Homo sapiens: one gene and its partners. The protein of the gene in region 1 purifies or fractionates together with the protein of each later gene. This does not show direct contact. Each region holds a gene or a part of one and is shown on either strand. Other genes may lie near its edges.

The links.
Region 2: the proteins of P4HA3 (region 1) and ZMYND8 purify together in Homo sapiens (co-immunoprecipitation; 3 studies listed by BioGRID and IntAct, with this or other methods). This does not show direct contact.
Region 3: the proteins of P4HA3 (region 1) and MTCL1 purify together in Homo sapiens (co-immunoprecipitation; 3 studies listed by BioGRID and IntAct, with this or other methods). This does not show direct contact.
Region 4: the proteins of P4HA3 (region 1) and TRPS1 purify together in Homo sapiens (co-immunoprecipitation; 3 studies listed by BioGRID and IntAct, with this or other methods). This does not show direct contact.

What each region holds. Positions count from the first base shown.
Region 1 is NC_000011.10:74,266,632-74,273,656, forward strand, and holds the end of P4HA3 (prolyl 4-hydroxylase subunit alpha-3 isoform 1 precursor), read right to left. Parts: intron 6,977-7,025; coding exon 6,914-6,976; intron 3,090-6,913; coding exon 3,021-3,089; intron 1,611-3,020; coding exon 1,514-1,610; intron 1,181-1,513; exon of another isoform or gene 965-1,180; intron 688-964; coding exon 617-687; coding exon of another isoform or gene 430-616; 3' UTR 26-429; downstream 1-25. UniProt on the Homo sapiens protein: Catalyzes the post-translational formation of 4-hydroxyproline in -Xaa-Pro-Gly- sequences in collagens and other proteins.
Region 2 is NC_000020.11:47,353,690-47,360,616, reverse strand, and holds the start of ZMYND8 (MYND-type zinc finger-containing chromatin reader ZMYND8), read left to right. Parts: upstream 1-3,917; 5' UTR 3,918-3,946; coding exon 3,947-3,960; intron 3,961-4,180; exon of another isoform or gene 4,181-4,202; coding exon of another isoform or gene 4,203-4,237; intron 4,238-5,096; exon of another isoform or gene 5,097-5,167; intron 5,168-5,983; exon of another isoform or gene 5,984-6,927. UniProt on the Homo sapiens protein: Chromatin reader that recognizes dual histone modifications such as histone H3.1 dimethylated at 'Lys-36' and histone H4 acetylated at 'Lys-16' (H3.1K36me2-H4K16ac) and histone H3 methylated at 'Lys-4' and histone H4 acetylated at 'Lys-14' (H3K4me1-H3K14ac).
Region 3 is NC_000018.10:8,820,539-8,827,563, reverse strand, and holds part of MTCL1 (microtubule cross-linking factor 1), read right to left. Parts: intron 6,098-7,025; coding exon 6,066-6,097; intron 3,394-6,065; coding exon of another isoform or gene 3,348-3,393; exon of another isoform or gene 3,206-3,347; intron 2,866-3,205; coding exon 1,332-2,865; intron 10-1,331; coding exon of another isoform or gene 1-9. UniProt on the Homo sapiens protein: Microtubule-associated factor involved in the late phase of epithelial polarization and microtubule dynamics regulation.
Region 4 is NC_000008.11:115,665,952-115,672,779, reverse strand, and holds the start of TRPS1 (zinc finger transcription factor Trps1), read left to right. Parts: upstream 1-3,804; 5' UTR 3,805-4,235; intron 4,236-4,766; exon of another isoform or gene 4,767-4,896; coding exon of another isoform or gene 4,897-4,906; intron 4,907-6,828. UniProt on the Homo sapiens protein: Transcriptional repressor. Binds specifically to GATA sequences and represses expression of GATA-regulated genes at selected sites and stages in vertebrate development. Regulates chondrocyte proliferation and differentiation.

The DNA of each region.
Region 1 (7,025 bases):
TAAGAATATTCTCAGTTGGGAAAAATGATTTATAAACATTTTTAATGACTGTGTTAAAAAACCATCATACAAAAAGAAAAGAAAGTTGTTTTCAACTTAAAAAAAATCCTTATATAATGTACCACTCATCTGGGATATGCTTCTGGGAGGGGGACACTCCCTGCTTGGGCTGCAGCAGAAGGCAGTGGGGAGAAAGTCTTAAAGTTCTGGGAGTCAGGCTAGCCCCTCCTGCAGGTGTCCTCATTGCCACTTCTTGGTCCCTGTGGTCAAGGTTCAAAGTGCCAAAAGACCCACTGATCGAACCTGAGACTGTTGAGATGTCCTGTTCCCAACAGAGAGTATCTGAACTCCAGAAACTTCCCTCTCAGGCCTCCACTCCCCCCTCCTTTGTACTGTGCATCCTACTCTGACTTCCGTGGCTGGGGCAGATCAAATGTACATTCTCAGTGTCCCCTGGTAACAACCTCTCCCTTGCCTCTGATTTGCGAGGCACAGACAAAGCTGACAAGGCCTTCTTCCAGGAGGCTGCTCTGCTTTCTCCTCTCCTACCCCAGCTTTTGGCTCCTGGCTTCTCTGGAAAGCCACAGGACTCCACCAGCTTCTCTCTGCCAACAGTTCAGTCTTCAGGGCTGGAGCTGCAGGGTCTGCGGAATTCCTGTCCATACTCATGTATCCACTTGTTGGCCACTGGGAGAGAACAGGGAAGAAGGAGACAGCAGGCTCAGCAGAACAGACAGCAGCAATGCTGCAGACTGGTGCGCACTCATAGGCGCGTGTGAGTGCCCCCTTAAATTCTGCATCCTAGGTAACTCACTTGCCCAGCCTAGTCCTGGCCTCACTATGGACTACAAGCTGTTTCTTCCAGCAGATAAATAGCAAAGAGGACATTGTCCTCTGGAAAAAAGTCACAGGTCCTGTCTCCTGTAAACTCATTTTCAAACGTTTGGGAACTAAGATCACTCACCCTTCATTTTAGAAGCCCATGTTCCCCATGAAGCCATTCCAGAGTACTGAGAGAAAAACGGGTGGCATCTCCTGGCAGCCTCCACCTCAGCTTATGAGCCCCCTTCCACTTCTCTTTCTGTTTCAGAGCTAAGTGCTCCTGGATGTATATGTGACATAAACACGTCCATCTGCTTATTGATCTCTTCTTTGTTTTCCCACCTCCTCATGGGGAGCACTAAACAGGAGAGACAATGGCTTGACACATCTTTCCTTGGGGTAGAGTGTGGATGGGACACCATATTCCTCTCTGGCAGTGCTCAGGAATCAAGGCCTATCTGGTCAGGTGAATAAACCTTTACTGACTGTCACTCTGTAACAGGAACCCCTGCCTGTTATAGGCTCCCAGTCTGTTGGGGGCACCTCATTCATAATCTGATCTTCTCAATATAATGTGGCACTGTAATGAAGCGTTTGGAATGGGATGGCTGTGGTAGGTCCCACCCATCCCCTGTTTCACTCTACTCTGCACCCTGTACCCCCTTCTCATGCCCAGAAAGGCAAGACTTACCCCACTTATCTCCCACCAGGACAGGACAGCCAGCATGAAGTGTGTCACTGTCCCCTTCACCACTCCTGTGCAGGTTCCACCAAAACAGTGCTGCATTCTGAAACAAGAGGGCCCAGCCCCAGGGAGGGTCAGCCCAGAACCTCAGTCCTCGGGAAGCACATACTAAGGACAAATGCAGGCATGTCATTGAAGAAGCCTTTCCATGCAGTCTGGGGGCAATGCATGCATAAAATGGCACAAAATGGCATAAGTTGCCATTTACTCCTTCATGCATGGGTCACTGACAGAGTCCCCTGCACCCCAGGTCCTGGGGCTGCAGGGACAAATTACGTCCAGTTCTGCTCTCCAGGAGCTCACAAGAAACAGACATAAAACAGACCTGAACAAGACAGCATGGTGAGTTCTGGGAGAAAGGTGAGCACATTTGTCATTGGGTCACTGAGGAGAAACACCGAACAAAACCACAAGGTGGAACAAAATATTCCCATACAGCCAAGCATGTCATTAACTCAGAAGCTTTTCCTCCCTCAGGCACTTATGATTAACACTTTCAGGGAGCAGGCAGTATCATAATCCCCAGTTTCCTAGCAAAGAACTTGAGGCCCAGGGCTTTAAATAATGCAATAAAAGAAGGAGCAAAGTGAGGACTCAAGCCCAGGTGTTCTGACGCTAAATCCTGTATGTTTTTCCCCCATACACGGCTTCTTTGCCGTATCTACTTCCTGTAGTCAAATTACTTTAACCTTGGTCCTCAAAGTAGACAAAACTCCAGGTCATGAAGAGCTTTCCAGGATGCATTGGCAGTCTCTATGTTCCTAAGCCTACAAGAGGCGTCAAGCTCCTGAGTATTCAGAGATACCTGGCATTGATTATCGAATGCTCAGGATGTGCCAGGCACTGTACTACCTGCTTTACAGGAATGATCTCGTTTAGTTATCTTCATTTCATTCCTAAATTAGGTAAGGGCTGCCAGGGAGTTGGACTGATCTGAAATTTGGAGGAAATACTCATTCATGAAGCAAACCTCTTAGACTCAGTTCTCCTCAGCGCCTATCCTTTCCAAATCCCTATTGCAACATCATAATGCCTGCTGACGTCTCTGTAAACTCCTGGATCAAAGGGCTATGAATTTCCCTCTGCACCCTCCGTGCCTCTAGCTCTCAATGTGGACTGAACTAATGATGGAAGGAACTAGATGCTGTAGAGGATCCAAAGTAAATAAAACAGAGCTCTTATCTTGAGGAGCTGTACTGTGACAGGGAAGACAGACATGTAATCATCTACTTGCAATATAAGTGTAAATAAAATAACAAATAGAGGCACAAGTGACGAGCATGTGTGCGGTAGTAAAGAAGACTATGGGATGATCTGTGATTCTGGGAATTGGGGAAGACCTCTTTTTGGCCCTCCTCCCAGGAATGGGCTTGCAAGCACAGACAGCGTGAAGGTTAGAGGGTAAGCGCTGCACTCCCTCAACCCCGTCTTCTGGGACCAGGGCCCCACTCACCCTAACCACAGGCACGCTGAGGTTGGCATAGATGAAGGCTGTGGCTCCTCCAGCTTCCACCGAGCTCAGCTACAAGACCAGAGGAAGAAGCCAGAGTTAAAACTGCCACCGACTTCCCTACCCTGTCATATGATGTCACATCTGCATAGATTCCTTCTCATGGTCTTTTCTTCAACTCTGAGAGAAATACTTGAAAGACAATCATCCAACTCAGGAGGAACTTCGGGAGCCTACTCAATGGCATTGGTGTTTGCCTACAGGGCCACAAGAGGACAATGTTTTGGTATTCTTCCTTTCTTTCCCTTCCAGCTAACATCCTTATTGAGGGCTACAATAAGTAGATTCAAACTTTTTGACTGAGACCCTTAGGAAAAAATACATTTTAAATAATGACCCAAGACACACACACATACACACACACACAGACACATACACACACACACCTCCTGAAATATAATTGTCATAAAACATTCTTAATATCTGAGATAGCTTCTGATCTTCTCTACTTTATTTTATTCTATTCTAGTGTGGTTCTCTTAAATGCTCATCAGAACCACTAAATTAATCTCACAACCTATAATGGATCATGACTTGTGGCTTGAAAACCAGTTTAGACTATGATTCTTCTTGAAAGCTGGGCATCATAGGAACTACTTATTACACCTTTGGCATATTCTCCAGATCACTCTGCTCCTCTCCAGGGAACCCAAGCTAAGGAGTTTCATCACTGGTCTGTTCTAGGACTATGGATATGTTTTCTTAATGTGAAGCTTTTTTTCTGGTTGTCACAGAAATATATAATAATTGTAAACTGTTTTAAAACAGGAAAATATTTTTAAATAACAATAATTATCATTGTACCATCCAGAAAAAAGTTATAGTTTACATAGTGATAGTTGACATTTATTGGGCACTGACTATATGCTAAAAGTTACACTATGTCCTTGCAAATATATTATCTCATTTATTCCTCAGAACAATCCTAGGAGTTACAATCGTTATTATTTTTAACTCTTCACATTTTACAGATAAAGAAACCAAGTCTCAGAGAGCTTAAGCACTTTATAAAAGGTCACATGGCTCTTCCATGATGGAGTCAGGATTTGAGCTGAGCTGGTGCCATGTGACTACAAAGTCCCTGCTCATAACCATCATGCTACACATTTGGAAATTTAGGTCATATCCAAATGTTTACTATTATAAACAACACTGCACTGAACAACTTAATGAAAAAAAATCATTTTGCATTTTGGATTGTTTTCATAGGAAAGAGTCTTGGCACTAGTATTATGGGGTCAAAAGGACATGCATAAGTTTCATACTTCTTATACATTTTGCTAAATTATTTTTTCAGCAGTTGCATCACACAAGAGTGCCAGTTTTACCTCACGCTGCCTAGCATTATCTACCAGAAGGTTCATGCTCTGTAATCTTATGGCAGTCAGATCCCGGTACATTTACTTGTGTTACAGAGCAAGAGGTATAGGAGGTAGGACGCTGGCCCTTGGTAGATGCAAGTGAACTGACATGGTGATTTGGAACCTGGAAATGGCAGTGGTGACTATTAGCATTCCTTGGCTCTCCCTGTAGCACACTGGGAAAGCCGATGAGAACAACAATTGGCTCCTTGTGTTCAGGTAACAAATTAGATTATTCTATTCTAGCCCTTGTCAGTAAGGGGCAACCTGGACTTTCCTGCATTCTTTTACCTGTGGTTTTACAATATGGTGGAAAGGAATGACATAGCCAACACATTAAAAAGAAAATCGGATTCTGCATGCAATGAAGCTCATGAGCACGGCATGGGCTGTAAGAACAGTGGGAAAGGGAGAGAAATCTTCCGTCTGTATACCTTCTACTATTTTGTACTGGGGCTGATCTTTTTTTTTTAATAGAGACAGGGTCTCACTATGTTACCCAGGCTGGACTCGAACTGCTGGGCTCAAGCGATCTTCTTGCTTGAGCCTGCCAAGTAGCGGGGACTACAGGTGCACACCACCGCACCCAGATTGGGACTGATCTTATGTCCAATCTGAGCAGAAAATCACCAACTGGACTTCAACTCAATCCTCTGTACTTCTTAAAGATTATTTTCTCCCTATAAAATCAGTCTTAGGTTTCCCACAAACCTTAACATTTGTCTTGAGAAATGTTTGTCTTGAAATTGTCTCGAGAAATCCCAACCTGAAGATGAAAGACTTGGGCATAATCTAGCACTTCCCTGGTCCCATGATACTGATTCCCCTTTATGATACCCTTTCCTTTAATTGCTCTGTGGGATACAATGACAGAAACATACAGTATGGAACTTTCCAGAGTGACATCCCTCCTTACATTATCTCATCAGACCCTCACAACAACACTGTGAGGAAGCACAGGGCAAAAAGTGAGCTCACATAATAGATGTAATCTGTGCTGAGGCCACATAGTAAGTGGCAAAATCAGGATTAGGTCAACTGACTCCAAATCCAAAGTGTATTCCATTCCACTCTGTCTCAAATACTTAAAACCCAAATGCACATGCATGCACACACATGTGAAAGTGCATGAGAGTGCATGCACACACATACACACACACACACACACACACATGCATTTGCCATTTAAAATTACTGGGCTCTTATACCCACGCTACCTTCGCTATAGTAACTGGGGCCCTGTAACCAGGGAACCAGCCATAGGAGATATTGAGGGGATAAAGAACAGAGATATATTGTGCCCTAGATGCCCTGTTTTTTGGCAGCAGTTCATTCTTTCGCCGTTTGTGACCTCCCATAACAGCTGGAGTGGTCAACCAGAGATGCAACCAACTGCAGCTCCAAGATGTGTCCCCTGCCTGATAGCTGACCTCAGAATGATCAGAATGAGGCCAGACACCATTGTAAGTGGAAGCCTTCCAGTTCCATAGGAAGTACAGAACTGAGCCACATAGAGAAACACACTGGAATTGCTGGCATTAAAGACTACACAGAATGCTGGCCTCTGACTGCCCTTTCTTGGCTGTCCTGTGGAGACCAGAGACAGTCCTAATAGAAGAGGAAAAGCTGGGGTGAGGGATGTCTGCTATTCTAATGAGGCTGAAACAAGGACTTCATCTTTGGTTGTTATATAGAACCCTTATATATGTTTGTCCCTTCAGTTAACAGTAAGGTATCTCTTCTAATAAGTGATTAATTCTAATATTCTCTTCCAGTGACAGGTGATTGGAAGCTTGTCCATAGAGACGAAAGTAAACCCACATGATCTGAAGGGAAGGGGACAGGTGAGATGATACAGACTGGGGCCGAATCCTGATCAGGCCAGGAATTAGGAGAGAAGTACAATTTATTGGTTTATCTTGAAAGGGGAGTCATGGAGATTTTACTGAAGATTTTATAGAGAGATAAGGAAGAGAATTTTCACTAAACATCAGAGGCAGCACTTGCTGAATTTCTCTCAGTGTCTCTGTTCTTCCCTCTTGTAAATCTGCTGCCTCATTCCTCATCCATCTCCCTCCCCACAGCCCCACAACCTCATCTATGGGTTGTTTTTCAACACTGATTAGTCCATGAGACCTCAAGGACACAGATTCTCAGATCCTCCTCCTGTGTTGTTCAAGTCCCTCTATCTCTTGGCCTTCAGTGGAGCTCCACTTCCCATCCTAATCCACTGCCCATACCAAGGTCATATTTAGATTTACACACTGTCAGCCTCTTTCAGGGTAGAAACCTTGTCTTGTATTTCTTTACATCTCCTACAGTGCCTATCAAAAATGCTGTCTGAAATTCGCAAAATTCCTGGAGATTTTTGCGCTGAGTACCAGATAAAATCAATACGTGAAATTGCTTTGAAAACAATAAAATAAAGTAGAGCTATAGTCAGTCATGAAGTAAGAAGCCCAGAGCAATACTCACATAGATCATAAATGTTGCAACTCGGTTTCCTGACTTCATTCTGTAGAGGGGGCTGCTTGGTGACTGAGAAAAAAAAAAACAGAACATATTATTTTATGCAGATGGCACCAGA
Region 2 (6,927 bases), on another chromosome or scaffold:
TGTTGTTACTGTGACACTCTGCCTGGCTCCCCACAGCCTGATTCTGTACCCCAATCCTCTCTGTACCCTGGGAATATTAAGAGAGACACGTTTTAATCTATTTTTATTAGCTCATTGCTTATTAATATCACCAAAGAACCTGCTTGTTTAGGCCTGTGCTGGCTTTTCTAGCCAGAGGCAGAATGATTGGACTGTTTTCTTCCCTTTCCTTAAAGGGCTTAAAGCCAGGGTTTCCCAACCTTGGACATTTTGGATCAGATACTTCCTTGTTGTGGCGGGGCTGGTCTTGTGTACTTATAGGATGTTTTGCATCATCCTTGGCCTCTACCCACTGGATACCGGTAATACAACCTCCCTAACTGTGACAACCCACACGTCTCCAAGCATTGCCAAATGCCCCCTGAAGGGCAAATCCCCCCATGGTTGAACCACTGGTTTCAGGGAATATAAAAGCCTAATTTTAGAGATGGCAAAGTGTTCCCCCTTGACATCTTGCATCTTGCTGGAGGTTGGGAGGGAGAGGGTCGCTTCCTCTGGGCCTCAATCTGTAATGAGGGGCATTTGAATGAGTCTAATCTAAAAGTTTCCTTCAGCGCCATCATTCAATACTGAAAACCCACCTCAAAAGGGTGGGTCTTCAGGTTGCAGCATTGAGTTGTGATGATGCCACTGCACTCAAGCCTGGGCGACAGAGCGAGACACTGTATCAAAAAACAAAAAAGCAAAAAACTGGTCTACCTCCTAAAAGAAAACACAGATTATGCAGTTGCTGTTCGTAGGTTTCAGCCTCATTGTTTCTGCTGTGCTTGGTTCGGCTTTGCTTTTGCTTCTTTCTTTAGAGCCAGGAGAAGGTACAGAGTTTAGGGATGTGAAGTGCTAACGGGGTGGACATCTGATCTCTGGCACTTCCCAGCTGTGTGACCTTGGGCAGCTCACTTCACCTCTCTGGGCTTAGTTCCAGGTTTCTAACAATGCCACCTACTTCAGGAATCAGTCTATGTAAAGCACTAATTTAGAAGTAACTGCTGGGATACTCACTGCAGTGGGGCTTTAAGAGGAGCTGCTGAATGGATTTCTAGATTGAGACCTGCAACATTTGGTTTTATTTCCTGCTTATCAGCCACATTCCATGAAGCCCAGGACCAGCCCTTCGTAGGCCTGCCCCAGGCTTTCTTTTCAATCTGTGTTCCTCCCAGGATTCCATCTGCCACCATACTTTTGTGTCTGTCCCCAGCCGAATTGCTGTTTTCCAGATAACCTCAGACCTACCCGAATGCCAACAGCATTCCTCAAACAGAGCAGAGCTGCCAGAATAAGCCAGCAGCTTCCTGCTCTTTGCCCCAGAAAACATTTCAAGTGATCAAGTGATCAGAGAGAGGGAGGGAGGCGGGGAGGATGCTGTAGCTGCTTATGCAACAAGCTTTAATCCCAGGTTAAAATCCACCACGCACACCAGCGGCATATTTTATTTCCTCATTGGTTCGTGGACTTAGCTGCATGGGAGATCTGCCACCAACCCCACAGTCCTGTTTGTTCCCCTCAAAGCAGCACCCGCAGAAACAAACAGCATTCCATATGGGATGGCGGTGGAGGGCCGCTGCCCACACAGCTAGGAGGGTGAGCACGCACTGCTTCACTGTGGCCTCCACCTCTCGCCTCCTCCCATTTAGTCTCCCCATGCAGCTTTCTACCTCCAGGAAGAGCAGGCCCCTCCCTTTTGGTGAGGCCCAGGCCTGCTGTCCTGAGCCCTGGAGCTTTGTCAGGTTGGGTGGCCATGGAGCTGTCCCTCCCTGCAGCTTGGCCTCAGCAGCCTAAAACAGTAACAACAGCAACATCCTGTCCGTTTTTATAAAGCCTGGGTCCTGCCCTGCCGTACAGTGAGTTTCGATTCCCAGCTCGTTCCTGAGCCTGTTTGATATGAGATTCCCGGCCAGGAAGAATTTATGTACAAGCAGTGGGCATCTGTTGTCCATGTGGGGGTTGGGGGGGGGCAGGGAAAGCAAGCCATCAGCTCTTCGTTTTCTTTGTGGGAACCGTGTGGGACAAGAAAGCCCACAAGTCCTAATTTTAGGAGGAGAGGGGAGACTTTATTGCTCCGGAGTTATGCCTCCTGGCATATGGCTGCGTTAACTCTGGACGCTTTCTCCAGCCTCTAAAGAATGGTGTTTATTTAGCTTCTGTGGTTCCAGGTTGCTGTTTTAAAAAATCCTGTTAATTAAGCACCTTGTCATTTAAAATGCCGAAGAAGGAAAGAGAGCGAGAAAGCTGGGGACATTTTACGGTCCTTTTCTATCTCTGGGTACAGACCAACTGCGAAGGCAGCTTTAGGGAGGAGACCAGCAAAGACCTCCTAACGCAATTGAAGTGGGTAGAATTGTAAGCAGCTCTGAACAACCAGTTAATATTTTACTGGGGAGCGGTGCCAGAGATGGGGGGGTGGGGGGGCTGCCAAATGGAGGGCTGTGTGTGAAATCGCTGCTCCATCTGCCTTGGGGGACGAAAAGAAGCCGTTCTCTGTGCAAATAAATGGAAGCAAGAATCCTTAGGAAGCCCAGGGGATTTGTCTGCCCACCGAGGAGGGCCCAACTCCCCCAGGCACACACATACAGGGATGATTGTGGCAGGAAGGGCTGACCTACGGGGGTAGGCCTGACGCATAATGGGGGCTCTTGTTTCCGGGCTGAGCGTGCCATCTTTCTGTCTCCCTCTGGATTGAAATGGCTTCTCAGCCCGAGAGGCACTGCCTGTGCCCTGGATTCACAAGGTACACGCCTCCCTGGGAAGCAAAGGCTGAGAGACAGCGGCTCTCTCTCTCTCTTTCTGCATCTGCCGGGAGAGCTGCAGCTGGTATTTTTCCACAGGCCTTCGCTGCGATCTCAAGGCCTAGTTTTTCCCAGCCAGGCCCCGAGTCCGAGAGAGGGTTAACAGGCAGGAAGCCGAAGGCATCGCAGGCTAATACGGAAGTCAGATTTGTGTTTAACTGACAGGTTTAGCAGGTCTCGGCCGCGGGGGAGGGGCCGGGAGGGAAGGGAAGTTTGTAGATCCAGGCATGTGGCCTGCGAGGAGGGCTTTGGGTTTTTCTTAGGGTAAGGACCGAGAGGGGTCCCCCTTGGCATCGTGGCAGGGCGACAGGAACCCACGTTGATTTTGCCTGCAGGACTGGCTAAGCAGGGCGCGAGAGGCCCACGGCTCCCTGGCCTGCCTTGCAAGGAGGCATGGGGACAATGACTATGCAAACTTGACCACTCTGCTCCCCTCCTCCCCTCAGCAGCTACTCCTCGCTCCTCTGAGAAGCCAGGGCTGCTCTCTGCTGATTTTTCGGGGCTCCCCCGGGCTGCCTGCTTCCCCCAGCTTCTCAGAGGCCTGCCTCAAGCCCCTTTTTCTGGCCCCTTGGCTGTTTCCCCGGGACTCCCCACTCCCCAGCTTCCCCTTCCCCTTGGAGAGCCACCCTGCTGGACTGTTCTAGAAAAAGGCTGGCCTTCCTCCCTGGACAAGGGCCGTTTCTCTGGGGGCAGGTGAGGGTGAGCCGTTCCAGCCCACTCCAAGAAACTCCCTTCCCAGGGACCTCCGGGCCTCAGGCTTTCCTGGAGCAGGTCAGGCTGGCTGCCCTGGCTGGCCCGTGCCGGGAAATCTAGCCAGGGTGCAGGAGAAGTGCGTGTGGGGGCCCCTTTCCCAAGTTTTTCTTGCTGCAAAAGGCCTAGCTTAGCCTGTCTTTTTCTATGCACAGGATGGCTCTTGCTCACCCGAGCCTCACAAAGATAATCGCTCAGGAAGTGTTTCAGCCAATCCGGGGCGGCTTTACACTCCGATTTGCCGGGGCAGCCAATCGGGGATGAGCTTTTATTAGGCGGCCAGATCATCAGCCGAAGTGCCAAACCCTTTTTCTGTGAGAACTAGGAGCCTGTCCTCCATGTTTTATAAGTATTGACATTACACAGTGTTAACAATGCATCCACAGAGGTAAGCTCGACTTTTTAACCATCTTTTTTCCCCCTCCCTCTGAGACATCCGAATTGTGGGCGAGCAGTGTGATTTCTCTGTGGCTGGCCGTGCCACACTCACCCCCAGAGCACTTATGTTAACTTGGAACTGTTTAGAGAGAATTTTTTTGCTTTCTTGGGTCACATGGCTCAGTAGCCATTAGCCATAGCTTGATTTTGCAAACTGGCAAGGGCCTGGCACACCTTTCCTTCCACCAGGGCATGGTGTTTCTGGAAGAGTTTGAAGCTAGATCCTGGTATGCCAAAAAAGAAGCTTTTTTTTTTCCTTCTTTTTTTTTTTTTCTTTCCCTCTTCCCTCTCTCTTCCCCTCTCTCTCTCTCTGAGCAGTTCCCCCCCTCCCACCCCTGCACTATTGTCTTCTCTTTTGCCACATGCCCTGCTGGGGGAAGAAAATGGAAGGTAAGCAAACAGGCTCCTCTCCAAGGAGAGCTCATGGCAGACAGCAGAGCAGGCAAGTTTGCCTCTCCAAAGAGGTTCTGGGAAGGCTGGATAAGTTTTGACAAGAGAGGAGCGTGTTTGCAAAAGAATTGTGCCCTCAGCAGAGCAGTGCTAAGGAGAGTCTAGCTCCTGGGGCCTAGGTGGGTGGTGGTGTCTGTACACGGTCTTCTCTTATTCTACAGAGCTTCTGCACTTGAAACTACATTGTTCAGCCTGTTTTCCTGACTTAGGTTGCTACAGAGTGTTCTGCAAGCCAGCCTACAGCCAGCAAATGTTTCTGAAAGTGTTTTCTAGGCTTTGGAGGAAGTTTTTTGGAGTAGGGATGGGGACTGGGGGGTGGGGGGAGAGATCTTGGACAACATCCTGCAAAAAAAAAAAAAAAAAAAAATCTGCAAGGATTCTGAATCCCTTAGCTTTCTACTCTTGCATGATTTTCAAGGAACTAATGTTACCTTTTATCCTTGTTTTCATTTTCCTGTCCCTTTTATACATTGTATCCTCCTCTCTTCTCCTGTGTCATGGAGTGTAGAGGAAATAAAATCATGTCTGTGGCTCATGACAGCATTCCATATTCAGTTGTTGGGTTGTGTTGTTGTTGTTGTGTGTGTTTTTAATAATACCATGTAACTGTTTAAAAAAATTTCCTTTTTGATCAAGTCCCAAATCTGCCAGCCTGTTCTCTCTTCCTAACTGTGGAAAAATGAGACGGTTGCTTGAACATTTGTTGGGTAAGTAAAGCAATCCATTTCCTCTGTGACCATGTTTGAAGAGTTTTGCGAACATTTGGGGTCTGTTTGTAATAGTGGGTCTTGGCTACAGGAGTTGGGGGCTTCATTAGCAGGAACAAAATAAGGGCTTTTTAAAGAGTGTCTTGATTTTAGGTGACTGTTTGAATCCACTGTTTTTCCTGATAACCTGCAGCTAGGATTGAAGATTATACTTCCTGTTTACCCTGAGTCAGGGGAGAAATGTTCAGTTCATTGTGACTTGACTCTAGACCTTTAATGGGGTTTGTTTGGATATTCAAACTGTGAGTAGGTGATGTGCTTGTGAAATGTCATGAAACTGCTTGTTCTTAGAGGTGCAGAGCCCTAAAAACATTGGTGGTGTAGAAGCTGGTGGTGGTGGTGGTATGTGTGTGTTGGGGGGGTGGTGTCAGTGTGCTCATGTTTTAGGACTTATGTATAGTGCAAAATCTCATCTACCACCAGACTGGGTTTGATTCAGGACTCACTGACCAACACATTTTGGCCTTTTTTCAGGTCTCCTCCACACATCTGTATGCATGCTGGCCCCACATAAGATTTCTCACTTTTTACATTTCCCTTGACCACTTAAGGCTGCAGCTAGAAGTTAAGTGGGAAAAGTAGAGTCTTGTTTAGCAGTACCTTCAGAATTTCCCTAGAAGTTCAGTACATAAATTTTCAGCTTGGAGACCAATCCGACATGACCGTAAATGCAGGAAATATATTCAATTGCTGTGTTATGTCAACTTTATGGAGTCAGTAATCTTTTTTCTTTCAAATGAGTGTCCAGTAGCCCACTTTCTGACACCGAATTGGAAAAAGGCTCATTTAATCAGCAGAAACGTACCACATTCTAAGTTGAGAAAAGTCTGTGCAAGGCAGGCCAGCTTAGCTTCTTAGAGTAAAACTGCAGGCAGTTAATGATGTTATATACTTAAAACTGAACAGTGCCACTGCCCCAAACAAGTAAGTTCAGACACTCAGCTATTTTCTTTGTTCTTATCTCCTTGCTGTAAATGGAAATTACATATCGAGGTTCTTGTGGCCTCCCTAGAAGCAATATCTAATCATAAGACTCCTGGTTTGGTGCCTTCAACGTTTGCATAATACTGTGTTTGTTGGGCTGGAAGGGAACTTAAGGGCAAGGCATTTGTCCTCTAAAAGCTTGCATTAAAATGGCTCCCACAGGTTTGGAGAGCCAAGATCTGTTTTCAAATGTACAGCCCCCAGCAAGTTCCCAACCCTGGACCAAGCTAGCCACTTTTCCTCTGGTACTGTGACCCCTACCAAGCATGAGTCTGTAAAAAGTTAATTGCTTTCAAAGTAGCATTATTTTCCAGTTTCAGGAAAGGGGGAAAAAAATAAATGTCTGCATTGCAGCAGGACTAGGTAGGGACGGCAGTACTGGCTCCCAGAGCAGCCCAATGGGGTTCTTCTACTCTAGCTTTTAAACCAATAGACTTGGAGGAAAGGTTAAAGATTGACAATTGCAGTGGCCGAACTAAGAACGGGCCTTCTGGAAATTTCTACCATCTTTGTTCCTTTTAGGAAAAGCAGATCTGCCAAGCAGAAGCGTCTCCTACCTTCCATTCCTAGGTCATCTCCCTTCCCTGCTTCCCCCCAACCCCCCTTCTTTTTCTCATCAAGGTAGAATGTTCTCTCTGCCACGTTTGTAAATTGCAGAAGGAGGAACAGAATGTTGGGCTGTTTTCCTTTTTCCTTCTGCCTCCTCAGTCCCCAAA
Region 3 (7,025 bases), on another chromosome or scaffold:
ATTTGTCACCTGAGAACATTCAACCAGCAGTTTGTCCTCAGAGCATGCAAACAACTTTATCACAAAGACTCAGATCTTGGAACATGTAGGCCATGTAGTATCAATATTTGTATTAGGTGTGAACCATATGGAATTGCCACTTCTGTAAGCCATTGGCAGTTCCACAGGTCTGACCTATTCAGATTTCAAGCCTGCATTCTGAGTTAAACATTCATTGGTGGGCCAGGCTGGGAAGACAGCCATCATTTACCCTCTTGTGGGAAACGTGGGCCAGGTGAAACAGGCAATACACCTTCCTCCTCTCCCTGCCCATGAAGCCAGGGCTGCTTGGGTCCTGGCGAGGAAGCAGCGGGCAGACCAGGAGCAAGCTGCCGTCCTCCTCCTCCTCTGACCCCCGCCATCTGCGGGAGCAGCCTGGCTCGGAGAGTGCTCATGGGGCCAGGTGTTCCCAGTGTGAAGCCTGTTCATCCGGACTCCTGGCGAGTTGGAATCACTCGCTGGACAGACACGTCCTCTCTGTGCTGCACGAACCACAAAGTGGCATCACCATAGCCATCACCACCAGCATCAACATCAGGCTTTCATTTTGCTCATTGTTGAAGTGGAAATGGGAAGCGTTTTGTAAAGTGGTGTACAAAAACACCACATGTGGATGTGCATCAGAACCCAATTCACAGTGGATTGATTTGTGAGTAATATCAAGGGCAATAATGATAATCATATTGTATTAGGGTAGGATTTTGATTTTGTCTATATGTTTCACTTGGTTTTACTGCTAGGGGGGCTCATGGCCACAAAGAGGGTAAGTGATTTGTGAGCTGCCAGATGGCTGTTTTGTAAGGAAGCCAGCCCAGGAATCGAGATCTTGTGGCTCCTGATGAGAAGTGCTCGTGCTCATGTGGTCCAGACCCTCTCCAGCTCACCTCATGCTGTCACATATGAAGGTCTGCAGTATGCAGCAAGCCTGACACAACTATCCCATAGTTTGTACATGTGCACGAATTCACACAGAAAGAAGGCAAACTGACCCCAAATAAAATGCCCTGATAAATAAGGATCAATCACTTAAGACTGGTGACAGAACCCAAATCAAACCATGTACTATATGATTTCCCAAGGACAATAAAATAACATTTTCTTCAAAAAAGTTGCTCAGGGCTTTTTCTGCCTATTCTATTCTCCCATAAACCTAACACCTCCCCAGCTCCCAATAACCAATCATGGACGATTCCTGAGATCAAATGACAGAGCACAATCCCAAGTCCCAACCTGCCCCACAGCTAAAGGGAAGAGCTGGTGGGGAAGGGTGTGGGGCACTCAGCATTCATTACCTCCATGGGCCCTGGCTCGGCTGTGTCCCCCAGCGAGTGGCTGTCACTGTGGAGACCCGGGGGCCCGTGGGCAGCCTGCCTCCTCTCCTCCTTTAAGGCATGTTCCAGCAGCTTCTTGTTGAGGATCCGGGCCACGTTCTCAGTGAGCGTGTAGCCAGGGGGAGCAGATAAGTCCTGCTTCACTGGCGTGCCCTCTCCCCCTTCCTCCCTGCACATCTCTGACCCCACCCCAATGGGGCTAGGCGACCTTCCTCGGGAATTGGTGCCTGTTTCCTGGCCTGGGCCCAGCTCTGGTCGGGGCTCTGCTGAGCGAGACCGACTGCCGGCCCGCAGCCCCTTCTGGAAGGGGTCCTGCACCACGGGGCTGTGGTCAATGATGTTGAAGAGGCTGGAGAGGCCATCATTAATGGTGGTGTGCACGGGGCTCTCCCTTGTGGTGGTGGAGCGGGCCCAGGCTGACTCACTGTACCCTTTCTGGGCCATCCCTGGTGACGTCCTGTTATTTGGCTGGTCGGCTTTGGGGAGGGGCTTCCTCTGCAGCTTGGGAGAACCATACTTGGGGGAGCAGCATGTGCGTTCAAACTTGGCCTGCACCTTCTCGATGGCAGGGGCCACCTGTCTGCTCCTAAGGCTCCGGGAAGGAGACGACACGGGTGTAGCACCGCCCCCAGCCTTTGGAGTGAGACACTTGTGGGGGCTGCTGGTGACACCGCTGCCACGCAGGGCTTCAGTCTGCAAGCCCACACTGATGGTCTGAACAGTCTGGGTCCCCATCGTCCGGGACCCATTGGTCTGGCAGGCCATGTCCTTGACTTGCAGCTCGCCAGGGCCGGAGCAGATGGCATTCCTGACAGAGAAGGCCACCTCCTTCATGTCATCACTCAAGTTCTTGGACATCTCCAGGCTGTGCAGTGGGGAGGCAAACCCCAGGGAGGTACAGAGGGGACTATCAAGGGGGCGCCGTGCCCCCTCCACATAGTCCCGGGAGTGCCTGGGGGAGGTGCAAGGCCACCTGCTGAGCATGGGTTCTGGAGGGCCTCCCTTGGTGTCTCCCGGGCTCCCTCTGGCTCTGCTTGTGGGAAAGGGACCCTCACCACCTGCCGCCGTGATGCTGTCGACCCTGCGCACGGCAGGCGGGCTGTGTAACACGCGCAACCCCGACTGCTCGGTGAGGACGTGGCTCCGCAGTGGCTGCTTCTGGCAGTGCTCTGGGCTGGTCATGGTGTCCGTGGTCATGGTGACACTTGTGGTTAGGTACCAGGAGGAGTCGGGGAAAGGCTCTGTGCTGTCCTCGTGCCCTGCCCGCCCCACCTCGGTCCTGTCGGCCCAAAGGTCCGGCCCCCCACCATTGTGGCCCCTGTTGGGTGTGTAGTCCCAGCTCTTGTTGAACTCCTCGATGTACTTGAGGTCGTCTGGAGACAGGGGTGGGGTGACATCCTCCTTGCTGCTGGTGGACGGCAGGCCCTTCTCAGGCAGGAAGGGGGAGATGTCCATTAGACGCTGGAACTCAGACATGGAGGACACGGACACCGCCCTGGGAAAAGCAGAAAAGAGGGTGTCAGTACCTGCCAGGGAGCCTCTGACACACCACAACACCCATGTCCTGCCCTGCATGAGAAGTGTCAGTGAAGGCACCCGCTGCCACCCACACCAGGAGAACACTGTCAGCTGCTCATGTGCTGCACTCACAGACTTACCCTGCGGGCATTTATTGGACTCTGCGTGGCTCTGGAATTGTTCCTGAAGCCTTGCATTGGTCAGAATTTAATACAACCAACTCTGGCTCACACCCGTAATCCCAACACTTTGGGAGGCCAAGACAGGAGAATCACTTGAGGCCTCAGTGCCTCAGTGAGAATTCTCAGGAGACTCACTCGGACCACAGCTGAAGGGTGAAGACGGTGAGCCACGGCGATGGCCAGGTTTTGGCAAGCTGCCACCTGATGGACACAGATTTGGTGTGGATTCTTCCATGTGTTAGCACTTTCAATTTGCCATGAGTTCGCTGAATGCCTCTCACATGCCTGGCAGGTGCTGCAGGGGTGCCAGCAATGCTTCCAGGCTAAGACAGAAAGTGGCCGGAGTGCTCGGGCACGACTACCACCAGGGCAAAGAAGTGGTGGTCAGGAACGGGGCTGGGGCTGCCTGTGCCTGCTGGCTCAGGCAACAGAACCTCTTTGGCCTGGAATCCCTCCAGCTGGGGTGGGATGGGGCGATGAGGTGTCTGTAGACTCACTGTCCAGATTCTTACAGGACATACTGATACTCCTTTCACCCCACAAAGCACAGGCTTAAACCTAGGGATCTAGACTAGTGCAGGCCCTGTGGAAGGGGTCCCAGATTGAGTGTATGGACCACTCCTCCATAGGACCTATTAATGATGATGAGGCCAGAATTGGGGTCTGCTCTGAGCAAGTCCCTGTACCGTGTGCGCTGGTACACAGAACCAGCAAAGCTCTGGGCAGCTTTGCTGACAGCTGGCTTCACCTTGGGGGCAAGGCACCCGTCCATGTGGTCAGCACCACGGGGTAAAACAGCAGGCTAAAAGTGACATCGTTAGGCATTCCATCTTGTTATCTTTTTGTTGTTAGAAATAATCTACAAACTGTCCAGTGGTGCTTTGAATAACCACAAGCTGGCTATATCCAGTGCCGGAAAGGAAGGGCAATGGTAGGGATGGGTTGATTTGTCCCAAGGTCATGAGCTTTCCAGCAAGTATGAATTTCCCTCTTCTCAATTCAAGGAGTTGCTGAATTAATGATGAGTTTCAGAACACTGTTCGCTGGGGACTGTAAGTGCCGGACACATGCCAACACCCTGGTCCTTTCCACATTTCTGTGGACATAGCTCATCTAACTCCCACTTTTGCCCACAGAGGAACTGTCTCAGAGTTAAATCAGTGGCACCTACCTGGGTGGGAACTCAGTGCCTCTGGGGCATGGATGGATATGGTGGAACAGAGATGATAAAGACAGAGAAAGCAGAGGCATTAACCTCAGCAGTGGCCAAAGCAAACAAAACCATGATGAGAAAACCCGGGATACATCTGGAGCATGTGTAGGCGCTTGCAGGTGGAACGAAGAGAGTATGGTGGAAACATACCGGGCAGTCAGAATCAGAGGACATGGGGACAGTGGGGAGGGCGCATCCAGTTTCCACTTTGGATATTTTGAGACTATCTATCTATCTATCTATCTTTTTTTTTTTTTGAGACGGAGTCTTACTCTGTCGCCCAGGATGTAGTGCAGTGGCGCAATCTCGGTTCACTGCAACCTCCGCCTCCCGGGTTCGGTCAATTTTCCTGCCTCAGCCAATATTTACATTTTATAACAAGCATGTGTTACTTTTGAAAGCATAAAAGTTGATGGCTTGAGTGGTGAAGTACAGTTGCTCCAAAGCCTAACCGGAAACACTGATGTGGCTGCTGCTGTGAACGGGGAAGGTGGGAGGGTGTAATGACTAAACTCTGTTTACTGTTTGTTTTGTGCCATGTGCTGCTTTCATTATGTGTATTAACATACATAAGCTGCAAAAAAAAAAGATAATCAAAATACGTCCTGTATACAGATGAGGAAACTGAGGCACAAAGCAGTTGAGTAACCTACCCAAGGAGGCAGAAGCGATTCAAACCCAGGCAGTTTGGGCTGGGCACAGTGGCTCACGCCTGTAATCCCAGCACTTCGGGAGGCTGAGGCGGGTGGATCACCTGAGGTCAGGAATTCGAGACCAGCCTGGCCAACATGGCGAAACTCTGTTTCTATTAAAAGACAAAAATTAGCCGGGTATGGTGGGGTTTGCCTGTAATCCCAGCTACTTGGGAGGCTGATGCAGAATTGCTTGAACCCAGGGGGCAGAGGTTGCAGTGAGCCAAGATTGTGCCACTGTACTCCAGCCTGGGAGACAGAGCGAGACTCCATTTCAAAAATCAACCAACCAACCAACCAACCAACCAACCCAGGCAGTTTGGCTCTAGAGCCTGAGCTCTCAAGTACTGTCCTGTACCACCCAAGAAAGACCAGAGAAGACAGCGTGAAGGACAGAAGTGTGCCACAGGCATGGCTAGGTGCTGCAGAGATCTGGCAGGGAGCAAATGGGAAGAGGACAGTCATTCACAGACTCGAAGTTCAGAGGAAAATCAAGGATGAGGCGATCTGGAAATGCTGAATTGCCTGAGAAGAAATTTCATGTAGTAGAAACGGTATGTATTCATTTGGAGAATGATGAAAAAGTAAAACTGGAGGAAATTAAACTGGGGAGGAAAAAACTGGTGTGTAACTAACAACCACATCAACCACTATATATCTTCTTCAAGGACTACTGCCAGAAAATATTTTAATAAATTCTCTTAGTGGAGCTTTTAAATACAGTGTATAAAGCATCTCACAGCATACAAAAGAGAGTTTTCCCAGACTTTAAATGAGAAAAGAGAGGTTTCCATGGACCTTTCAAAAACCACTCAACACAAGCATTCCTTTGTATACATAACACAACAACAACTGGAAAGTCCTTACCATAAAACTCATACACATGTGACACAGCACGTCTAACTTCTTTGTTAATAATCAAAAATACCATGTTTATGAAATGAATAATAAAGCAGCCACTTCTTCAGAAGTGGCATAATTTTAAGTCATTTTGAAGAGAGTGGTAAAATAGACTGCATTGACAAAACAACATTTTAAGACCAAGACATTTTTATTCTAGTAATCTATTATTTTCATCAATCTTACTTACCTTTGAAGATTTCCTTTGTGATTTTCTTCTTCCTATAAAGAAGAAATAACTTCATCTGAATCGGTTAATTTTGGTTGTCCAGAAGCCCTGAATGTACTTAAGTGATTTGTTTGCTCTGCACCCCCAGGAAACCACCATTTAAAATGTGCACTGAGGCCAAGCTCTGGTTAGGAGTGCTACTGCCCTGAGGCCTTTAAAGTACAATCATCAAAGCGAGTCCACAGCATGATGAGGGGCTGGAGCTTCTGTAGTCCAGGGAGAAGCCCACATGAGTGAGAACAACTGGCTATAAACTTTGTCATGGAGGAGGTGGCTCTTCTGTGCTTCCTCAAAGGACCTCACTGACTACATGAATTTCAAAGCGGGATTTGTAACAACCTAAGTGTGAGAGTGAGACTGAGAGAGAGAGAGAGAGTGTGCATGTGTTATGTTAGAGAGAAAGATGGAAGGTGATAGAGTAACGTTAGTGGTCCCGATCTTGCTGTAGAAGTTGGCGTGACATCCTTAGACTCGGGCACTTGGTTGGTTTTAAACATTCCCATTTAGAATCAGAGGCAAAGTACAGTGCCTTCCCCTTTAAGAAGAATGATAGCTGTGTTTGTAGAGAACGGCATAAACACGAGGTTGTCTGCTGAGAAAACACTCTTGTGCTGATGTGGTTTTGAAGCAGCAAGACTCTGACTAACAGTAAGGGAAGCATATTTTTCAAGACAGTAAATAGCAAGGGGTACCCTTCCCCTTAATGAGCATGCCCCTTGTCTCTGCCATGCAGGGTCCAGTGGGCTGGAACCCACGCACAGGCTCCTGACCCCACCCCACGTTACCTCTACTATGTAATCGGACTGTATAAGATTGCCAATAGATCAGACAGGGTGGGACTGTGGCAATGTCCTATCAACCTGGTACACATTGCTGAGGATAAGGCATTTGACCTTACTGATGTGGGTGAAATATAATTTC
Region 4 (6,828 bases), on another chromosome or scaffold:
ATTGTGGGAAGAAATAAACTTAAGGTAGTTCATCTCTGATAATGCCTCTGTTCCTTCAGGTCTTACCGTGAAGGAAGGCAGAGTATTTCAATAATTGCTTTTGATATGCTGGAAGGTAAAGGGTCTTCCATTTCACATGGGGTAGGACTAACTTGAAAGCAAATAATACATAAATGTTTTCTTGATAGTATGTGTTAAAGCAGTCGGCATTTAGGACCAAGGGTTGTCAATCTTTGAGGTTTCTAAAAGGAATTGCAATTTATGACGTGTTAGGGTAAACAGTTGGATTACATTTCTGAAATACGTGTTCCATCAGGTAAAATCATTGTGATTACAGGCACTGGAACTGTAAGTAAGTAGTGTGCTAAAAGGTTGAAAATGTAAAACAAGTATGCTTGTGCTTAACTACTAATCCCTCTTTGTATCTCTGCTGAATAAACTACAAGAAAAGGGGGGAAAAGAATGTTTAAATAATAAAACAGAAAAAGTATATTATAGTATGTCATTTTGATAAATAATATGCATTAATAATACAGCTTGAGGAACTGTTTCATCAGTGCTAAAGCCACAAGAGAAGATTCCATAATTCAAAGAATTATGAAAGATTATAAAGAAATTATTTTAATTAAAATGTGCTTCTTTTGTTTGCTTTTTTCTTTCTCTTAATATCTTCTTTATTTTCTGGTGTGTCCTATAAAAGCACAGGTTGTCTTTTTAATATCCAGTCTCCATTGTTCAGAAATGCGTTGCAAATAAGGGAATGGTTTTAAGAGTTTTGCATATGTTTGACAGCAGAAGGTATTAAATGTAAATAAATCTTTAATATTTCCCTTAATTCAGTTTGTGCCATGCAAATGTCAGGACTAGAAAAACAAATCAACAAACATTTCAAGGAAAACAATATACGTAACTTATTTTATACATTAAAAACAACTGTCAAACAATTATGACCTCATGTATTAGTTGGTTGTTTTGAAATATTCCTACTAGAATTAAAAAATGCTATGAGGGCCTTTGAGCTTAAACATATTGTGTCAATCAAGAGCACATGTAATGTATCTAAAGCATGAGGTAAAAATTTTCTTCATAAATTATTTCATAAATAAATAAGTAATTTGCTTGCAAAAGTTTACAAAAATATTTGAGCTTTTATTAAGTTCTCTACAGATCCTTTGTGGTTAATGTAAATGAATTGATACAGACAGCAGTTTGATCTGCTCTACTCTAACTTGAAATACAAAAAGTAACATGAAGAGATTCTTCATTTCTCAGGCAAACTTCAGCAAGATTGAGTCCGTGAAACTTCATTCATTAAATTTTTAAGTGACCATGAATTTGTTGGCTTCAGTACCTGAAGTGTAACTTTATCCTTTCAATTAAAAGACATAATTCACCCTCAGACCTTTGGCTTTAACTTTTCATATAATATGTAATTTTGGGTACACTTAATAGTCAAATTTTGTATTATTACAGGTGGAAAAACACCAGCCATCTCAAGGGCTTTGTGCTTGCAAAAGCATGTAATTTCATTTTTTTTTTGAACCAATTTAATCAATGATTGTTTCATGTGAATAAATTTACAGTCTTGATGATTGCCTTAGATTTGTGGGTGATGGAGAGGAAGATCACTTCCCCTTTTAAAATGTCATCTAAATCTTGGGGAGCAGAAGGAGATTAGGGGCCTAATCCTTGTGATAAATTGTACTATTTAACTTTGCTAAGATGCTATAGCCTCAGATTTTATCAGTTAGATACCAGCTTCAGCAGTTTTAGGTGATATTAACCCTTTCAATACAAAACAGTCTTACTGTTCGAATACATATTTCAAAATTGATTTAATATTTTTAGTTAGTCATGGCTCAAGAATGTTTCACTCAGATCCTTATTTTTTTCCTTTAATAAAAATGCTTCTCACTGTGCCGTGCATATTTCCATAAAAGTCAGCAAGTTAATTTATGGCTTAAAAAAAGAAAATAAAAGGTCTATATTTAATATGTGAATACATTTTACAGTGGAAATTGGTGGTGGACAGTATTAAATGACTCCAGTGTGGAAATATGCAGGTGGTCATTAGTAGCTGACTATGAGATTTACTGAAGATTTTGATATTAATTTTCCCGGCATGCAGTACTATATATAAATCTAACTCTGTTCTCAAATTAATTTAAATGGATGATAACATATGAATAACTCCAGGCATATGAGGCTCATTGTCTTCTCTCTCCTTTAGGAAATATATTGTTTGCCTCATTGTGAAACTGTATTTTGACTACTTTTTCACCTGACTAGTTTCTCTATTGCAAAAGAATTATTGGTTTTCTACTCATAAAGAGTGTATGGGAAACGGTACCAAAATACTTCTGGAATAAATGTGCTACAAAAAAAAAATCACATATCTGCTTGACTAGGTATATTAAATAAAGACCATAGAGAAAAAGGAATAAGGTTCTAAAAGCACCTACTTCAGTTTTAATTTTTTAAAATGATTGGCTTTTTCACTTCTGATAATAGTATGTTTGGAAAATATACCCATCTTTTCTCTAAAAAGATGCAAGAATCATTTAGTGAAAAATATTTTGGAGGAAATTACTTCATCTTCGGCTCTCAGATTCATGATTGTACCTAAGATTCTAATTTTAATCATTTTGTAGTTTGGAAAAGGAAAGATGCTTCTCCTTTTAGCACAAAATTACTTTAAACTGACTTTCACCAGAGGAAAAACATGCCACTTAAAGTCACCCAACTGAAGAAAATGAAGTCCAAACGCCCAAGAAATGTTTACTTTGTTTTTAACACCTACTATACTTTGAATCCTGTCATGGTAATGTTTTATGCATTGTTGATCTTTAGAAGTCAAAAAAAAAAAAAAAAGCTCAATCCAGTGAACTTTATGTTGAGGCAATTTCTCTTAATAATGAGAGTATATGGAGATGTAAAGTAGGTAAAAAAGAATGTCACGCTTAATTCAGAGTTCCTTATCTGCTACTAAAACCCAAACTGCATGTATTAATCTTGCAGCATTTGAATAATGTTCCCATTTTGTCTGTTTTGTGGTACCCCCTTAAAGCACCCATTGAGTTTCTGGCTTCTCTTTAGCTCAGAAAACCATAGCAACCTCAGTCCGCACTTCTCCAACTCAGGATAGAGTTCAAGTTGTTCTCCTCAAGCCTTCTTGCCGTGAAAATCGTGGGGAATCCTGATCACCAACTAGGTGTCCTAAGACTTCTTGCCACAGATAAAGGGCGGGGGAGGGGGCGCACACGCACACACACATCCTGCGTCGTTTAATTGGGAGAGAGAAGGGAAAGTAACAACAGAAAAGGTAAAAGGACTTTGAGAGTTCTTTAAATTGTTTCTGTTAGCATCTCTGAGTGTCTGGGGAACGTCGGTTTGGCGGCCACGCACTGCCCCCCACCTGCCCCCCACTACCCCAAGGTAAGTCCTCGTCTTTATCACATTATTCCTAACGCGTTCGGATTTTTCCTCCTTTTCCAGCCCGCACGTTCACAGACGGGAGGTGGGGGAGGGAGGAGGGGGGAGAGGCGGGGCGGGAAGGTAGCCGGGTCCCTGCACCGCGCCGCTCTCATTTGCGGCGCTCCGACTCGGGCGAAGTTCTCGCGCAGCCGGCTCGCCGCGGCCGGGGCCGGTCCCGGCGGGCGGCGGCGGCGGGTGCTCGGAGCCGGGCGGGGCGGCGGCGGCGGCGCGGGGACGCGCGCTGTCTCTTTAAGGGAGCTCGGTCTGGGGTGGCGCTTTCCTCCGCGAAGGCTCCTTTGATATTAATAGTGTTGGTGTCTTGAAACTGACGTAATGCGCGGAGACTGAGGTCCTGACAAGCGATAACATTTCTGATAAAGACCCGATCTTACTGCAATCTCTAGCGTCCTCTTTTTTGGTGCTGCTGGTTTCTCCAGACCTCGCGTCCTCTCGATTGCTCTCTCGCCTTCCTATTTCTTTTTTTTTTTTTTAAACAAAAAACAACACCCCCTCCCCTCTCCCACCCGGCACCGGGCACATCCTTGCTCTATTTCCTTTCTCTTTCTCTCTCTCTCTCTCTCTCTCTCTTTTTTAATAAGGGTGGGGGAGGGAAAGGGGGGGGAGGCAGGAAAGACCTTTTTCTCTCCCCCCCGCAATAATCCAAGATCAACTCTGCAAACAACAGAAGACGGTTCATGGCTTTGGCCGCCGCGCCACCATCTTTCGGGCTGCCGAGGGTGTTCTTGACGATTAATCAACAGGTAAGGAGGGGAGGCCCGAGCGGGCCGCGGGGCCGGGGGCTGCGGGGGGCGCGGGGGGCGCGGGCGCCCCTCGGCCGGGCCCGGGGCGCCGCGACGCGAGTGCAGCGCCCGCTCGTGTGCGCGCAAAATGTGGGCGATCGCGAGCGGGGAGCCCTGGGAATTAAAAGTGACTTTCTTTGAAAAAAAAAAAAAAAAAAAAAAAAGCAGAGGGAGAGTGTGCAGAAAGCCAAGCGCAGGCTTCTCGGGTTTCACATGCATTTTCTTTCTTCCTTTTTGAGCGTGTGATTTCTTTCTTTCTTTCTTCTCTTCTGCTCCCTTTTTCCCCCTTCCTCTCCTCCTTTTGGTGGGTCTGAGGCATCTGAGCTTTGGAAACCAGCGACTTCAAACTGCAGTAGCCCCTGGAGTCAGCAGGGTCAAGTTCAGCCGCCGGGGAGGAGGAAAAACAAATCCCCATTTGCCAAAAAAAGAAGTTTCAGGCCGGTGCCCCCTCCCCCTCGCAGCCCCACTCCCCCTCGCTGTCTCTTTCTGGCTGATTTTAATTCTCTCCTACCGGGCGCAGCGGAGGAGCTGGAGGTGGTTGGACCCGAGGGGCCGCCGCCGCCGCCGCCACTGCAAGTTTTCTGGGGGCTCGTGACAAGCGGGGCGCAGACTAGGCACCAGCATGCAGAGTAGTAAGTTGGGCGAACTCGGGAGGGTCGGGAGGGTCTCAGAGACGGGCCTCCGTATGGTCTCCAAAGTGGGAAAACAGCACAGGACTGCCTTTGGCTTTGAAGAGTTTGCAAATGCAGGCTTCAAACTTTTTTCCCTTAAAGGCCCAGCTGGGCTCTGGAGAAGGCGGGTGTCGCATCCCTTGGTGCACCCGCCTCAGAGCGGCTCAGGACAGCTTGGCCGAGCGGTCTGTGCCCTGTCCGTACCATGTGGCAGGGCCTTGCAGCCCGGGCGCTTCCGTAGGGGCTGAGGAAGGGGCAGACTTCCTCTGCGATGCGGTTGATGCGCCATGTGTCGCGCGGGTCAGGGGACACTGGCCGGTGATTAAATGCCTGACAGCGGTGGGACATCCAAGCGGACAGACGCTTTGCCTTCTGTCTGGTTCCTGTTTGGGATCTAGAGAAACGCATCTTTGAAAGGCCAAGGCAAACATCGCTGTCCCTCCAAATAACTCCAGGATTATAGGACCCCAGGAATAATTTGAGGGTGAGGCGGCGGTGGGAGCTGTTTGAAGTGTAAAGCTGTTTTTGTGGCTGGGAAAGCTTTTTCGTTAGTACCTGTCTGAGATGGTGGTGTTTCCCCCTTTCCCCAGGGAAGTCAGCAACTGTTTTATGGCCCCAGGACTCTAAAGCAATTTAAGTTAGAGGGTGAGAAGGACTGGTGGGTTTCAGAGGGAATCTTGGACTTATTAAATTTTAGGACCGGCTTTACTTCCCTCTATCTTTTTAGGCCTCATATTTGATGCTTTGAAAGTTTTTTGAGTAAGCCATTGATCTTAATGATGAATCTAAATTATGATAGAATATTCATTCTTATGCCATTTTGGAAAATCACGGCTAGAGTTTAAGCGAGGTAAGTGAAGTGAGAAGCTCAGCGGAGGAGTTAAATCTGAGACAAGTTAGGCCTATTCATTGAACTTTTGTAGATTCATTGAACTTTTGTAAACACACCAGGTGAACAGGAAAGGAAAGGGTCTGGGAGAGATAATAAGTACAAAAGAAAAATACAGATAGGGCCTGAGACAAAATTACAAAGAAATGATAACTCTGGGCCTGGTTGTTGGCTAAAACTTGATTGTTCAAAGCAAAAATAAAATAGGAACCTTCCAACAATTCTTCAAAGTCCTCCAGCTCTGAAGCTAAAACCTATGGATCTTGCTGGCATCATGTTACTTTCCTGCTGGTTTTAGAAAAAGTTGATCATTTAGAAAAGGCTGCCAGAGTTAAAAATGCAAGGGACAGCAGAGGAAAGTCATGCGGGCAGCCAGTTCTTGACGTGGACAAAATGAGAATGAAAGTTTCTGAACTCACTGTTGTGAAGTTTTACATGCCGCTCATTTGCTTAGAAGGCTCTCTCAGATATTCCACCAGTTAACGTATAAAAGCAAACAGGATCTAAAATCGTGTGGGCTTTTTTTTTTTTCTTTCCCCAAGTATGCCAGGGTTGTGAATAAATACAGGGTTTGTATGGGAAGATGAAGCGTTTCCTGTAAGTTCTGATGCTGACAGGACAGTCTGGAAATGATACCAACATTTTGAGGATTTTTTTTTTTTACCTTTAAGTGAAAGTTTATTAATGATATGCTTAATCTTAACAAGTCAAACATATTCTTAGAGTTTCTCTCTCCTTGGATTTCATAACTTCCTTTTAAAGCTACACCTTTGGATAAAAACATCTCTAGATTCAGTTCAATATACAGGGCTAGTAACATGCTAAAGTTTGACGATTATTTCTGGATGTTAATAATGTGAAAATAAAACTCCTGAGGGGCAAATAGAGCCTTAATACCAACATTATAACTTGATTTCTCTGAATGTGAGGCCTTCTGAAGCTTCATTAGTACTCTGTTGGCGAAGTATTATTTACCACTGGCGAGCTGATGTTT